3 separate regions of the Homo sapiens genome follow, and all the other regions are linked to region 3. Evidence: fine-mapped expression QTL. A gene starts in region 3. Each other region holds a variant in brackets. All regions are shown on one strand. Distances are from middle to middle.

Region 1 (5,000 bases), 69 kb before region 3:
GCCTCCCAAAAGTACATCGATTTTAAAATCCATTAAAATATTTCAGGAAAGAGAATAAATCTGATAATTATGAGACACAAAAATTAAAGTAGAAATGTTTTAAGTACACTAAATACTTTTCCCAAACAACTTGTAACTGAGTTATCTTTTGATTTCATACAGTTTGAAGACTTAGGAGACACACTTTCATACTACAGCAGAGAAATAACCTTATTAAAACTAAAACAAGGAAATTATATCCATTATGCTCAGGTAACATAAGATGTGGAAGAAACACTATATTCAAATCTGTTTCTTCAATGCATGAAATTATTACTCTTCCTTCTGAGTCTTTGCGTAAAATTCTCTTTGTTTTATGTCTGTATTATACATGTCTGTATTATACATGATATAAAGATAAACATGCATCTTATATATATCTCTCATATATAGGTATGTATATGTATATATATGTATGTGTATATATATGTATGTCTACACACACACACGCACATACAGTAGCAAGTCTGAAAGGTCTACATGCATATAAAGCATCTAGAAGGAAAAAATATCACTCATAATCTTACCACTTAGAGGCAGCACCTTTGTTTTTTTTTCCTTTACATATACAAGATAGTTTAATACACAATAGTGTTCTCTGAACGCTTTAAGCTTGCAGAATATGAAAATATCCTTATCAAGAGCTTCTGCATAAGATTCCTAGGCAGGGATTTGTTCTTTTCTTATTGTTGTTTATCACATTATCTTATATTCTTAATTTTATAATTTCAACGTGCATTTTAGATTCTGGTAATACATGTGCAGGTTTGTCACATAGGTATATTGTATTATGCTGAGATTTGGGGTATGAATGATCCTGTCACCCAGGCAATGAGCACCGTACCCAACAGGCAGTCCTCCAGCCCTTGTCCCCCTCCCTTTCTCCGCCCTCTAGTAGGCCCCAGTGTCCACTGTTCCCATCCTCATGGTCATGTGCACCCAGTGCTTAGCTCCCACTTATAAGTGAGAATGTGTGGTATTCGGTTTTCTGTTCCTGTGTAAATTTGCTTAGGATGATGGCATCCATGTTGATGCAAAGGACATGATTTTATTCTTTTTTATGGCTGAGCAGCATCTTTGAACAACATGACATCTAGCCAGTTGATCTTGTTCCTATGCATTGTTTAGATAGATGAGATTCTACTTTGTAGACGATTTTGTATTCCTTTTTCAGATGACATAATATTTGTTGTTTAAAGAATCTTTTTAAAGACAATTTTAACAATTTATGAACTTATACTATAAATATGAAATGCGTTTAGCAACTTTTTTATTTATAGCATATCTTACCTTCTCACAGAAGGATCTGAATTAAGCAGATGTTATCTCAATGATATAAATAAACAAAATTTCAAAGTTGAAGGAATTCCCTTCCAAAAGGACATGGATTTCCAAATTTAGTGAAGCATCCAAGGTTTACTTAATTATCTTCCTTTCTGTTCTTACAGCCATTTAGGTTATGCCAAAATTTTTCTTTTTGAATAAGCAGATACAGACATAAATATCTTTATGGTAAAGCTACTATTTCCTTATGATACAGTCTCAGAAGTTAAATTAGTAGGACAAATTATATGGACCTTTAAAAAAGATTCTTGATAAAAATAAGCAAATTGTTTTTCTGAAACATTGTGCCACCTTACATTTCCAGTAGCCACCTGGGAAAGGGCTGGATGGGGGTGGACGTTGTTTTATTATAGCTTTTCAAGAAGGACCAGACAAAACTGGGTCTATCAGTAGGAACCAACTAATTATTTAGAACATACTACGCACAAATTATTATGCTAGACTCTCGGGATACAAAAATCCTTTGCAGATTTTACAGATTCTCACAGTTTCATGTGTGTGCCCGTATGTGTGTGTGTCTGTGCATTTGTATGCAGGTTATGTGTGTGTTGGTGACAGTTGTAGGGTTTATAATTACAAAAGTTATATAACCAGTAGTCAGACCCTTTATTCTAGCCAAAGGTTTTGGCCTTAGCCTCTCCTGCTTATTAAACTATAAGAACCATTTTGTAATGAATCAACGACAAAAAGTTCTACAAAAAAAAAAAAAAAAAGGACTGATGGCTTCATAAACAGATTTAATGAAAGTTAAAAAACGGCCTCCTAGTTAAACCAAAGCCTTTCAACATTTCTTTATTTTTCCTTTTTACTTTAAAAGTTCTACTTAATAATTATAAAACATATATTAAACATTTGCTTAACTAATACAGTGCTTGCAACAACCTTATGAATTAAGTGCTACTAATTTTCCCATTTTACATCTGACAAAACCAAGGCCACAAAGCTAGTAAATGGCAAAGGTGAGATCTGAACGTCGTGGACTCCGTAAGAAAACGTACACTACTCTGCCTGGTATATGACAGGCGCTTGGAAAATCTTAACCATTATTGTCTGTGTATGTTTCCGCTTTGGCCTATAGTTTGTAAATATTATGAGGTCAATGGTTTTGTCTAGAATGCCTTGAACACCGCTTGGCTTTTCTCCATTACAATAAAGCTAATCACCAGGCATAGTTGTGCATTCCTGTAGTTCCAGCTACTTGGGAAGCTGAGGCAGGAGGATCACTTGAGCTTAGAAGTTTGAGGTTGTAATGCTCTATGATCACACCTGTAAACAGCCACTGCACTCCAGCCTGGACAGCACAGCACCATCTC[T/TAAC]AACAACAACAACAAAAAATTAAAAAATATAAAGATAATTATGTTTACACTGTACTCATATTAAAAACCACAGCAAAATAAAAGACAAAAACAAAATGGTAACTTGGTGATGGGCAGAAAAGGGAGGGGAGTAGGTATCACTGAAGGGAGAGGTAGTACCCCTTCAAGCGCTATTTGTTGAATTAAAGGCAAGGCAGAGGGTTTGACACTACGATGTAGCTTTATAAGCTACACACTGAACAGCCTGACAATTTTTGTTTGTTTGTTTGTTTTTGAGACGGAGTTTCACTCTTGTTACCCAGGCTGGAGTGCAATGGCACGATCTCCGCTCACTGCAACCTCTGCCTCCTAGGTTCAAGCGATTCTCCTGCCTCAGCCTCCCAAGTAGCTGGGATCACAGGCATGTGCTACTACGCCTGGCTAATTTTGTATTTTTAGTAGAGATGGGGTTTCTCCATGTTGGTCAGGCTGATCTTGATCTCCTGACCTCAGGTGATCTGCCCACCTCGGCCTCCCAAAGTGCTGGGATTACAGACATGAGCCACCACACCTGGCCCTGACAATTCTTAAATAAGTTCTAAGCATGCCATAGGGCTTGATGTCTCCAGATCAGCTTGCTTGTCTACAATCAGCAATTAACCCTTACGTCCTGGGTTACTATCTAAGATTTGGCCACAAACATGCTATCTGTGCGTGAGAGGCAGGGATAGGGAAGAAAAGTGACAGAGAGAAATGTACAATATGAAGGAATTTTCTGAGATTATTGATTTCTGAATGTTTCTGACTCTACTAAAAAATTTATATGAAACTATTAGAAAGAGTTTACAAAATATAGGGAAAAAAATCCTCCTATTTGTAATATATTTCAAGTGTTCTATACCAGGGGTAACTGCTTAGTTAACTTAAGAGGTAGCTCCTAATGAAAGGCAAATTTTATTTATTTGTAATTTTTTTTTTACATTGCGTAGTCTCTGTAAACCTAAGAAAGGCGAATTTTAGAAGGTAGTAAGATGAGCTGTATATGTGCTAGGAAGAAATTCATTGAAATTCATCGTAATTTTTAAGTTACTGAGTCCAGTCCTTAATAATAATAAATATTTCTGGTCATGAGGAAAAACTGACCTTGATGTCCTCAAGACCAGTGGGGTATGATATTAACATTCACCTTTCTCGGTCTACTAAATGCCGACTCCCTCCGCTTGGATGACCTCTGTCTACCCACACACTCATGGAAGGTTCATATGATCCCCCAAATAGAGATGATGTGGAATCAGCATATCTATCTCTATTTTGATGTTGAAATCAGCTGGAATCCTCTCTCTTTATGCAGTAAAATCAGAAAAGGCTTCTTTCCTGAAGCTGCTCCTGTTGAGGTAACACACTGCAGGCATTCTCTGTGCATGGGTGGTTCACATCCCCGGACCTTTCATTCTACTTGTCTTCTAACCCTTCGCCCTCAACACTATTTGACTCATCTGATCCCAGTGTGTTCCATTTGGAGAGGGATGAATCAGCAAAAACTTCCTCCTCCCACTGTTAAATTCTTTTTCCTTATGACCCTTCCCCTCTGGATGCAAGAACATTAGAACAGGGTGCAATTGTTAAAAGCTATCATTTGTTCAGTATATGTGCGAAAAAAAAAAAACCATTCCTCAGTAATTTTCACACTATCAATTATACTTTAAATATGAGAAGCATATATCTCCATCATCTGTAAGATTAGCTCATTTTTTGCAAGGGTAGCAATGTTTCAACAGGGATGGTGTCAAAAGAGATCATTGTACTGTGAACAAATAAGCAAACAGAAATTAGACACTGAAGCCTAATCTTAAAAAATGATGATGCCACCTTATATAATTTTTCAGTGAGTTTACACTTCTAATAACTTTTAAACACAAATACAAATCTGTCTTGATATTAAATGAGTTATGTATATCAATAATATACATGTTCTACAATTTTCTAAGCAAAGAGCTATAGTACCTTAGTAAGCATTCTGCTATGAAATAAGCTGACGATATTTCTACAAATTTTTTTGCAAAGCATATTTTCCCCAAACACTAAAGATACACAAAAGCACAAAACAAATAATGTAGCCTGTTTGGTTGACTACTGACGTAAATTAATATAAAGTCTGAATTATTAGTAATATGTACTGAAAATATACCATGTATGTTTTTAAATAACTTCAGATTAATTACAGTCATGCGTCACTTAACAGGGCTATATTTTGAGAAATGTGTCATTAGTTGACTTTGTTGTTGTGCAAACATCATAAAATGTACTTATACAAACCTAGATGGT
Region 2 (5,000 bases), 180 kb before region 3:
TTAGAGACAATACCTGCTTATATATGGAGTTGTAAATCCCTTACATTGCCCCAAGGAGTTCCAAACCCATGTATTGTAATCCAATGCTCTAACTTGGCCTAGGGAATAAGGAAGACCCTTAGAAGCCCATAAACCTGGGCAGGACTGCTTTGTTTTCCCTCCTCAAGACATACTATTGCTTTTGGCTTTATGACATCATTCTACAGTGAAGGAGACTACTGAAATGAATTCGGGGCTCTGTGTTTTGATTTTAAAAAAAAATTTTATAGAGACAGGGTCTTTCTACATTGCCCAGGCTGGTCTTGAACTCCCTGGCCTCAAGTGATCTACCTACCTTGGCCTCCCAAAGTGCTGGGATTACAGGCATGAGCCACACCACCTATCAACCTTGGGGTTCTGAATACTGGATTTCAGAGGGGTTGAATATACTTCCTGCATTTATACTGTAGACAAGTGGAGAACATAGCTCAGCACATAAAGCTGTCTTGCTTGCAAAGATTCATGAAAAAACTTTCTCAGGTCATAACATCAGGAACAACCATTTTGATTTTATCTCATGGGACACTGGAATAAATTCATTAAATATTACCTGAATATTGTTTCCTTTGCACTGGCTGCTAGAAAGCCCCAACTTAAATTTGAGACCCATTTCTAGTACAAATTTTAGGTAATCCATTTGTGTACTAATTTCATTCTGGCTTCATCTATTTTTTATACACTTATCAGTTTGTCATATTTTCTATACAACTATTTTATTATCATAGCATACGCATTTTATAACAAACTTCATGTTTAATTAAGAAGAGTATAATAACAGATACTGATAGGACAACTGTTAGCATATATTTCCCTTTCCCATCCTTTCCTCTCTTCCACCCTGGCTATAAGAAAAGTTAGAAGCTTCTTTGAATAGCTCCTCACCAAAAAGAAAAGAGGCTGCTATTACCTTGTCACCCTTCTTGATGGTCCTGATCTGGAGTTTGCTGATGGCTTTCTTTGCTGCATCCCCCAGTCGGCGCTGAAAAGCCAAAACGTGCTTGTTAATAATAAAGATCTGTAATTCTTGACTTCATTTCTGATATCATTTAATACACCAGGGCAGCTAGCTCTGAAATCATGCACATGTGGTATGAATGCTAGCAATGACGACTAGAAAAGACAGGGCAGTGGCATTTGTGCAAGGGGGCTCTACCAGTTGAGGTCTATAAAAGACTTCTGCCATAGAGAGAAGTTCTTCATGCCTAGAGTTAAGCAAGTGCATGTGACATACATAGATCCTGCCCTACAGTTCTACAGTGCAGGTTATATGTGCATACACTACCCCCCCCCAAAAAAAAATGAGTTTAGTAATTTGCCACTCTAGCCACTCAATTTGTGACACAGAGATAGCCAATCTGGAGTAGCTGGAGTAAGTGTCATCTCCTCTTTTTGACAATCAGGATTCATTGCTTGGATATTCCTTCCAATCTGCTCATATAGGCATAACGTTGGTTTAAATTTGGTCTGTTCTGTCCTATTCCATCACATTCTCATGTGGCAATTTTACCTCCTTTATGCATGTTTAAGTGTGAGTGTGCATATAGAAAAATACATAAAACATAATGTTCAGTTTAGCAAATAAGTAACCACCATGATCCATGTCAAGAAATAATATATCATTCTCTCCCCATTTTTGGTAGAGAAAATTACCATCATAATGAGCCCTGCAATAATGCAATCAGAGGGTGATGAGGAAAACTGGGAGAAGGATAGGGTGGTGAGTAAATTAAATTTTAATCTGTCAAGCAAAAAAATTGCATGTGAGTTTTCTACATGTTTTATCTTCTTCTTAGGTATATCTATTTCTGGTCTGCAATAGATGTGTATCTGTTGTAGTAAAACAGAAGGACTAAGATTAAGAGAGTTAACATTTAAACACAGACTAATCATTTGCTTTCACTAATTTTGTTCCTTTTGGAAAAAGCACTCAAGCTTCTTGCTTTTCTTTAAAATAGTGAACACATATTAGTGAACAGTTAATATATCCTAGGTGCCATGCTAAAGCTATATATGCATTATCACCTTTGATATTATAATAACTGAGAAAAGCACTATTTAATAGAATGAACTGAGGCTTACAGAGCTTAAGTAAGTTGTCCAATATCATAGAGTTAGTGAAAGGTAAGTCAGAATCTGAATAAAATTAAGTTTGACTTTAAAATCAAAGCTCATCTACCACCCTCACCTTTATTTGCCAAGCCACCCGGTCAACCAATCAGCCAGTCAGCCAACCATCTAACACCTGGCCAGCCAGTCAGCCATCCATCCAACGTCTGGCTAGCCAGCTAACCAGTCAACCAACCATCCAGCCAATCAGAATCACTAAGTATTTACCACGTGGCACTTCTCTAAGTACACAGCAGTTAAAGTCATTAGCAGAAAAGGAGATGTTTTCCTTGTTAATTCATTTTTCTCTTTGATAGTTTGTCCTGCGTATCTAAAATAATGTTGACATTTTAATTAGAAGGATAAGTTTTGGCTGTTTCCTAAAAGGAGACCTATGCCCTTGAGATTTATGCAGAAGTCCATGAGTAGCTAGCAAACTAAGGCAGCAGGCAAAAATAGGAAGAGTCTTTAGTGATAAATACCAGGAAAAACAGGAGAGCGAGAGAAAAAGAACTGAACTGAGGTGAACTAAACATGA[C/T]GGAACTTTCCTCTCCTCTTCTTCTGGTTATTATCTATTCATCCTTTGACTTCAGCTGAAATCATTTCTTCAAGGAGCCCTTCCTAGATGTATCCAACAAGATCCCTCTCATCTAGACCCTGATAGCACTTTGTACCTTTGCACTGTCACGTTTGACATTTGAAATTTGTTTTTATGATCAATTCCTGTTAGATTGCCCTCAGATATGCTCCCTGAGGGCAGGCCTATGCTTAGTTTTTGCTTCACATTGTTCCCTATATCCCCAGCATATATTAATAAAGCTGCCTTCAATAATAGGCAGTCAATCATTCAACATACATATTTTGATCTCTTATTCTGTGCCAAGTATAGCTTTGGGTTTAAAAAAATGGTAATGAAAACACATGTGTGCGCATACACACACGTACACACACACACTCCTATCAACTGTAGTTTAATTTATAATCTAGTGAAAACTCTAAATAATGAGTTAATAAAATCTTAAGCCAAGAGTGGTTTTTTGTTGTTGTTGTTGTTTTTTTTTTTTTTTGCAAGGAAAACAACCTGAGAAATTTAGCCAGTTAACGGGAATATTTAGGGACAAACTATAAGTGATACATATTGTAAGGTAAGCAATCTTGTGGTCCTGGCTTGGCAAACCCAGCCAGTATCAACTGACAGCTGCTCTCCATTGAAGGACCCCGGGGCAAGGACTGAAAGGTATTGAGAAAGGGCTACTAGTTATTGGGAGTAAATGCCACAGACCTGTAGAATATTGTATTTAGAATAAGAATCTGAATCCCAAACAAACAAATACTGTTTTTCTTTTTCAGTCAAGAACTCAGATATTTTTGCAATTGTGTTTAACTGGCATTATATAATATTGCACCTAATTCAATCACTTAAAAAAATTTTTTTTGAAGACTAACCAGAGTAATTAAGTAGAAAAATATATGTTCATACAATGGTCATAGATTATACTCAAAGGGAAATAATTTTTTTTTTCTTTTGAGATGGAGTCTCGTACTGTCTACCCAGGCTGGAGTGCAGTGGTGCGATCTCGGCTCACTGCAACCTCTGCCTCCCAGGTTCAAGTGATTCCCCTTGCCTCAGCCTCCCAAGTAGCTGGGATTACAGGTGCCCGCCACCACGCCTGGCTGATTTTTTTTTGTATTTTTAGTAGAGATGGGTTTCACTACGTTGGCCAGGCTGGTCTTCAGCTCCTGACCTCATGATCTGCCCACCTCATCCTCCCAAAGTGCTGGGATTACAGGCATGAGCCACAGCGCCCGACCAGGGAGCCAACATTTTTAAAAAGCAGGTGAACTAGAAATAATGTTTTCAAAATTCAATTTCTTTTAAAATAATTTTTTAGCAAATGAAATATGCCCTTCTTAAATGTGGGCATGTAGGGGAAGTTCAAAGACTGCATTAAACTTTGGCTGTGTATTTAACTTAACTGTTGGCTACATCTGAATAAAAATAGATGGCTTTTGAAAACATCCGCTCAGTCTCTTCTAGAGAAAAAACGCTTTCCACGCCCTTTTAAAATAATGAAGGCTGCCTTTATTTTTTAAAAATGGCAGGTCCGTTGAGGAAATGTAAAGCAAACTGACGTTAAGGTGACAGGGATTTTGGCTAACAGTAAAGTTAATGGCTAGGGAATTAGAAAGACGAATTCCATTACTGGCATTTGTATGACTGGGCCCTAGAGAGGTTAAAGAAGTTCAGCAGAGGATTAAGTCATTTAGGAGATGGGCTTCCCAAATTAGCAGAATTAATAGATTGAGGGAAAGAGAGTAAAAGAGAAAGTACAGTCACGTATGGCTTAATGACAGGGATACATTCTGAGAAATCCATTGTTAGGCGATTTCGTCACTGTGTGAAATCATGGAAGATTACTCACACAATTCTAGATGATACTGCCAACTATACACATAGGCTCTATGGTATAGCCTATTGCTCCTAGGCTAGAAACCTGTACAGCATGTACTGAATACTGTAGGCAGCTGTAACACAATGGTAAGGATCTGTGTATCTAAACATAGAACAGATACAGTAAAAACAGGATATTATAATCTTATTGGACTACTGCATATGTGTGGTCCATTTTTGACCAAAACGTAGTTATGCAGTGCATGACTGTAATAAAGTCATCTTCAACATCAAGTCTATGAGGCCTTCCTCCTAGAAGCTCTGAGAAATCAAATGATTCACAAAGGTAGGAAGACGTATTTTCCTTAATCATTCTAAAAAATGGTATAATGGTATTCTCTTCCATTCCCTTTCCTGTGACATTCGTTGAGTCAAGCCTCATTCTGCATGTTATTGATAAATG
Region 3 (5,000 bases):
TTTATTCAAATTTGGTTTTTAAAGAAAATAATGCTTTTGATTAGGAGACTCCACTCAGAAAATGCATCTGTCATTTTCTCCCCTCCTTCCGGGCACTGGATGCCACAGTCTCGGCCCAGAAACCCCTTTGGGGAAGGAGGGCCCACTTCTCAGGCACACAAATACAAGCAGCAAGCTCTGACATAAGGAGGCTAGCTTGCTAAAACTAGTGGCTTATGGACTTATGTTAACAAGCCTGGGGATGGCTTTTTTGGGGGGAGGGTGTTCCTACCACCAGGGAAACATTGCTTATGTCAGGCATATGCGGTATTGAGTTTTGGGACAGTAATGCATTTCTAGTCCTGGTACCTGCGATCATTAACAAAAGCTTATTCTCTCTAGTCTGAAATCCCTTCATTCTAGCCAGAAAGAAAACCTTCAGCATATTTAACCTCCCAATCAGGCAAAGGATAATGCAATAATTAGAAAAGTAGTTATAACTTTAGGGCCATCACACTCTTCTTGGCTTGTTGAGGATTGTTATTATTTACCATCGTGGCCACCTGTCAGTTTCTCTGGATGACAGCCTGGCAGAGCATAGTACTTTTAATATGATTAATGAAGTGCGTAAACCCAAAAGGGGAAACTCTCCCAAGTGCAAGTTCGCGGTGGTGAGCTGCCAGCAGGTAACCCTACCCCTCTCCTGATATAGCGCCTGCATCAGGGTATACCTGATGCACAGACCCAAGGGCAGTGCTGTGGTATCAGATCTACTGGTTCCAAACAGGTGCTGGGCCGGTCACTAACCAAGAACAGTATCTGAGCCCTACCCTCCAAACCCCACCTTCCAGGTCCCCCTCGGAAAAGTTAGCCCGCCACGTTGAACCCCTGTCCAAGCGGCGCTATGCCAAGCTCTCCGGCAGCCTCTCCCCTACCCAATACAGTTAATCTTCTCCTCTTTGTAAACCCCCCAAGTGACGCGGAGCAAAACTTAATCGGTCCAGGGAACCCAGACACGTCTTCCGCGCCGCACGGACTTCCCAGAAGGAGCCTGGAGGCAGGCGCTGGATCCCTCTAGGCACCTCCGTCCCCGCCGGCTCCCCTCCCCCGCGCCCGCTGGGCCACTCACCCGCGTGGGGCATGGTGATGGTCTCGTTGGTGTTGGAGCCCACGTTGAAGATGACCACGGCTGAGGCGTTCTGCAGGAACGCGTTCCGGATCTTATCCCTGTACGTGCAGTTGCCCTTGGGGATGAGGGCTATCCAGTTCTTGCCGCGGGTCGGGGCGGCGAACTTGGTGTTGGGGTCGCAGGCCAGGCGGTCGTGGGCCGAGCTGGCCATGACCACCTCCCCGCGGGCGTCCTGCTTGGGCGAGTGCTCTCCGTAGCGCCCGCACTCCGTCTTCTCCGTGTGCAGCTCCGCGCCGCCGCCGCCCGCCGCCCCGGCCCCGGGGTCCGGCGCGGGCTCGGCGTAGGTGATGTTCACGAAGGCGGTGTACCATTCCTCCTTCTCGGCCACGGTAAAGTCCAGGCAGAGCAGATGCACGAAACAAAAGGAAAGCAGCCATGTTGAGAGAGCCAGACTGCAGCACGCTTGGATGAGAGACATTGCCATCTTTATCCGCCGGGGCCCCCTCCCCGCCCCCGCGCCCTCCCTCCGTCCCGTCCCTCCTCCCCAGCCCCGGCCAACCCCGGGCCGCTGCCTCTCCTCCTGCTGCTGCTCACTCCCGGGCCGGAGGGGCCGCGGCCGGGACGCGCAGCCGCCGCGGGGACCGGATTCCGGGCGAGCGGATGGCGCTGGCCCCTTCCCCTCTCAGCTGTAGCGCGGTGGTTGCATTTTGCTTCTTGGGCGCCCGGGGGGCGCGGGAACAGAGGGCCCGCGGGGCTTGCGGAGGAGTCCTGCTGCCGAGCGTCCTGCTCCTTCGCCCGGCTTCGCCTTCTCTCATAAGGGTGGCCGGGGGCCCACGAACTTGCAGGGTGGCGGCCCTGCGCCCTCCAGCCCCGGCGGGGACGGGCACGATTGCTCGTAGTCTGGGGTGCTGCGGTGCGGGGTGCTGCCCAGGGTGTCCCGGCCGCCGCCACTGAGCGCTGGGGCGCGCGAATCCAGCTGCAGCCGCTGCTGCCCTGCGCCGGTTCCCTCAGGCTGCGGGCGCTGCGCTCCTGATCTCGCCGGTGGCTGCGCCTGGGCACGCACTTGCCGCGGGCGGGGCGGGCTTGGGGACAGTGGGAGCGAGCAGGCAGAGCGGAGTAAGCGGTCCGTGTGTGTGTGTCTGTATGTTTGTGTGTGTGTGTGTGTGTGTGTATAATGTGTGCGTGCAAGGAGGAGCTTAGTGTGATGTCAAAGCCCCTGGGATTCTCTTGCCATGTTCCCTTGGTCTCTCTTTATGGGCAGCAGCGACCCCTGTCGGGTCTCAAATTCAACCTCAATCGGCGACTTAATCTAGGTGGAGGTAAAGAGGAAGCGACCCCTCGACCTTTGAGTACGGGAATAACTTCCTGAGCGTTACATTTAGCAAATGTATGTGCCTCTCGTAAACGACCCTCCCGTTTGCTGGAAGTACTGCCGTGAGCTCCCTGATTACCTGTCCTAAGGCCAAAGTGTAAGGTGGTTTGGTATTGAGGTCCTTCCAAAGCTACCTCTGGAATACCTAGGGCAGTGGCTATCAAATCTTTAGTTTTAAAACTCAGACCGATGGGTCCTGCCACAAAGTTTCTGGTTCAGTAGATCTGTGGTAGGGCCCCAAAAATATGCATTTCTAACAAGTTCCCAGGTGGTGCTGATGCTGCTGGTCTAACAACCATTCTGTTAAGATGGGTATAACAATGGGCTTCCTACTGCCCACCTGGAAGCAAACATCTAACATTCGTTTTCTTATAGAATAGGTGTTTTGTCACTCTGTAAGAAGAGAAACCGGGTGAGACATTTCTGGACTGTGTTTATTCTGATTGTCATGGCTGGGAACAGGGGACTCGCAGCACCAACAGGCAAGGGAGGTTTGTTTGGGTTATTGTTTATAGTGCGCTCTCCAACTGTGCATAGAGATTACAGTAGTCAGCAGACAGTACAGTCCCCCTAGTGTAGTGTTCTTAAAACTGTAGTACAGCAGAGTGCCTTACCAATTAGACGTTTTGGTGGTGGATATCCTTTCCCTTGGCTTGAGATGCCTGCCATATAGTCTCTAAAAATATTTGTTTGATGGTTCTCTATCATTTACATTGTGTTTCCCACCTGATGCTCTTTCAGAGAACCCAGGACCCATTCATGATTTAAATTTAAAAAATGAAAGGCTGCCTTTTCCCCAGGACTTTAGCATGTTTACAGCTCTTCGTTAATGAACGTCCACCAGTACAACTTCTCTTTTTCCGGCAGCAGTACAAACAGCTGATGGCTGTTAAGGGAGGGCAAAGAGCCTCAGCTGTACCCAAATTAGAAGCAGGCACAAGAAGAACTACTTAGAAGAATTTGTCTCTATGGCATTTGATGTGCTGAATTTGTATGTGTTCCTAGCTTATTCATTTTAGAAAATAGGCTTCTAGGCAATTGGGACAGTGCTTTTTATAGCGCTTACTGCCAAGGAGGCAAAAGTGGAGACACCTGGCTGCTGGTTCCTGAACCACCAGAGATCTGAGGGAGGAGTCCACTGCTAGAAACCCCCGGCTAGGTTCTGAGCAGTTGCCTTTAGCAACCCACAGTGTTTCCCCAGTCTTCTTTATCGCTTAGCATTTTTTTTCTCCAGCTGGAAGACTTGGAGAAGCTATGTTATTAAGAATGTGTGACTATCCCTTACCCCTTCTTTCCTTTGGAAAAGTTAGGTGCTAAAGAGATGACAGGGTCAAGGAAATAGCATGGCTGGAAGATTGCTTAATTACAGGGCCATTGGGCTAATAAGTAAAACACTGAGTAAAATAGGAGCGAGGTTTCTTACTGTTGGAGAAGGAATTTACAAATATGGAAAGAAAGAGAGCTGTAAATAACCTTGAGGCTTTAGGGTGGATTAACAATGAGTATGAAATAATTTTTCAAAAACTATATGTATATATATTTATGTGTGTGCACACATATATACCATAGCTCTCTCCATTCAGAGGCCAAAAGCAAAAGGCACATCCAGTGGCCAGAAGATCTTCGTTTCTAAATAGCATCCTCCACGAAAAGCAAGCTGGCTGATTATAGGGCTGACACTGGGAAAGTACAGAGTGAGCCCATAACCTCTTGAAAGGAAATGCTCCAAGCATGATGGGAGTATGTCAAAAAGACAGAAGAGCCAGCTGGAAAGGGCTCCCACTGGCCAAATCTGGGACAGTCTGAACATAAAATAAATGATCCTAGTAACTGATTACAACCTATCTAATAAGGCATGAATCCGTGCTAATGTTAATACAGAAAAATGATGGAGTAAATAAATAGGGAGGAACAGCTCTTCCTTATGGTAGAAATACCTACTGATAAGGATTAATGGATATAGAAAGTCACCATTTGACAAGAGTGTTGTTTGATTTAGGCAGGAGTCATCAATGGATACTAAGGCTGATGAGTAGGTGTTTGATGTGAAGCAGGATATTAGCCTAGTCTTGAAGTATCTTCTGAAAAATACTTATTAATTCAATAAATGGTGAATTTATTGAAGAGGAACCTGGAAGACACCAAGTTGAGCAGGTGATCATGGTGAACATCACCATTTGTAGAATGAGTCCTATCATGTACCTCCTTATGAAATGCACTGGAATTACAGTGTCATTTCTGTCATGTTCCTGAAAAGAACAATACACGGCATGGTCTAGACATAAGGAAACAATGGATAAACCCAGGATGAGAGGCAACCTTCAAAATGAAAAGTTTATATTCTTTAAAACTCTTAAACTTATGAGAGACAGAGAAAAACAGAAGAACTGATCCAAATTGAAGAGATTTAAGAGATGTGACAATTACGTACAATAAATATCCCAGATTGGCTCCTAGACCAGAAAGGAAAAATAAACACTTGGCAAAAATTCAGTGAAATTGGTAGATTGGATGGTATAT

Which allele goes with the higher level. Alleles are on the strand shown, and positions count from the first base shown. SD is a standard deviation of normalised expression in the study named.
As copies of T replace TAAC in region 1, the expression in lung of the gene that starts at base 2,253 in region 3 goes down (small effect, 0.26 SD a copy in GTEx).
In carriers of allele C in region 2, the expression in fibroblasts of the gene that starts at base 2,253 in region 3 tends to be higher than with T alone (small effect, 0.13 SD a copy in GTEx).

What was found. PIP is the estimated chance that this variant, and not a neighbour inherited with it, causes the effect. A credible set is the group of variants that fine-mapping cannot tell apart.
Region 1: its variant is the best candidate, but not a certain one, in a credible set for the expression of RNF150 in lung (GTEx, PIP 0.85).
Region 2: its variant is the best candidate, but not a certain one, in a credible set for the expression of RNF150 in fibroblasts (GTEx, PIP 0.55).

Annotation. Positions count from the first base shown.
Region 1 is chr4:141,061,913-141,066,912 of GRCh38, forward strand. All of the region lies in intron 1 of RNF150 (ring finger protein 150), which reads right to left. Among named protein-coding and RNA genes, the nearest start is that of RNF150, 69 kb to the right of the region's middle. The variant T/TAAC (reference allele first, on the strand shown) is at 2,697.
Region 2 is chr4:140,948,355-140,953,354 of GRCh38, forward strand. It overlaps RNF150 (ring finger protein 150), which reads right to left. Exons shown (of 7, transcript NM_020724.2): 3 at 947-1,018. Among named protein-coding and RNA genes, the nearest start is that of RNF150, 180 kb to the right of the region's middle. The variant C/T (reference allele first, on the strand shown) is at 2,684.
Region 3 is chr4:141,131,217-141,136,216 of GRCh38, forward strand. RNF150 (ring finger protein 150) reads right to left here and starts at 2,253. Exons shown (of 7, transcript NM_020724.2): 1 at 1,109-2,253. The coding sequence starts at 1,592. RefSeq lists a silencer at 2,072-2,191.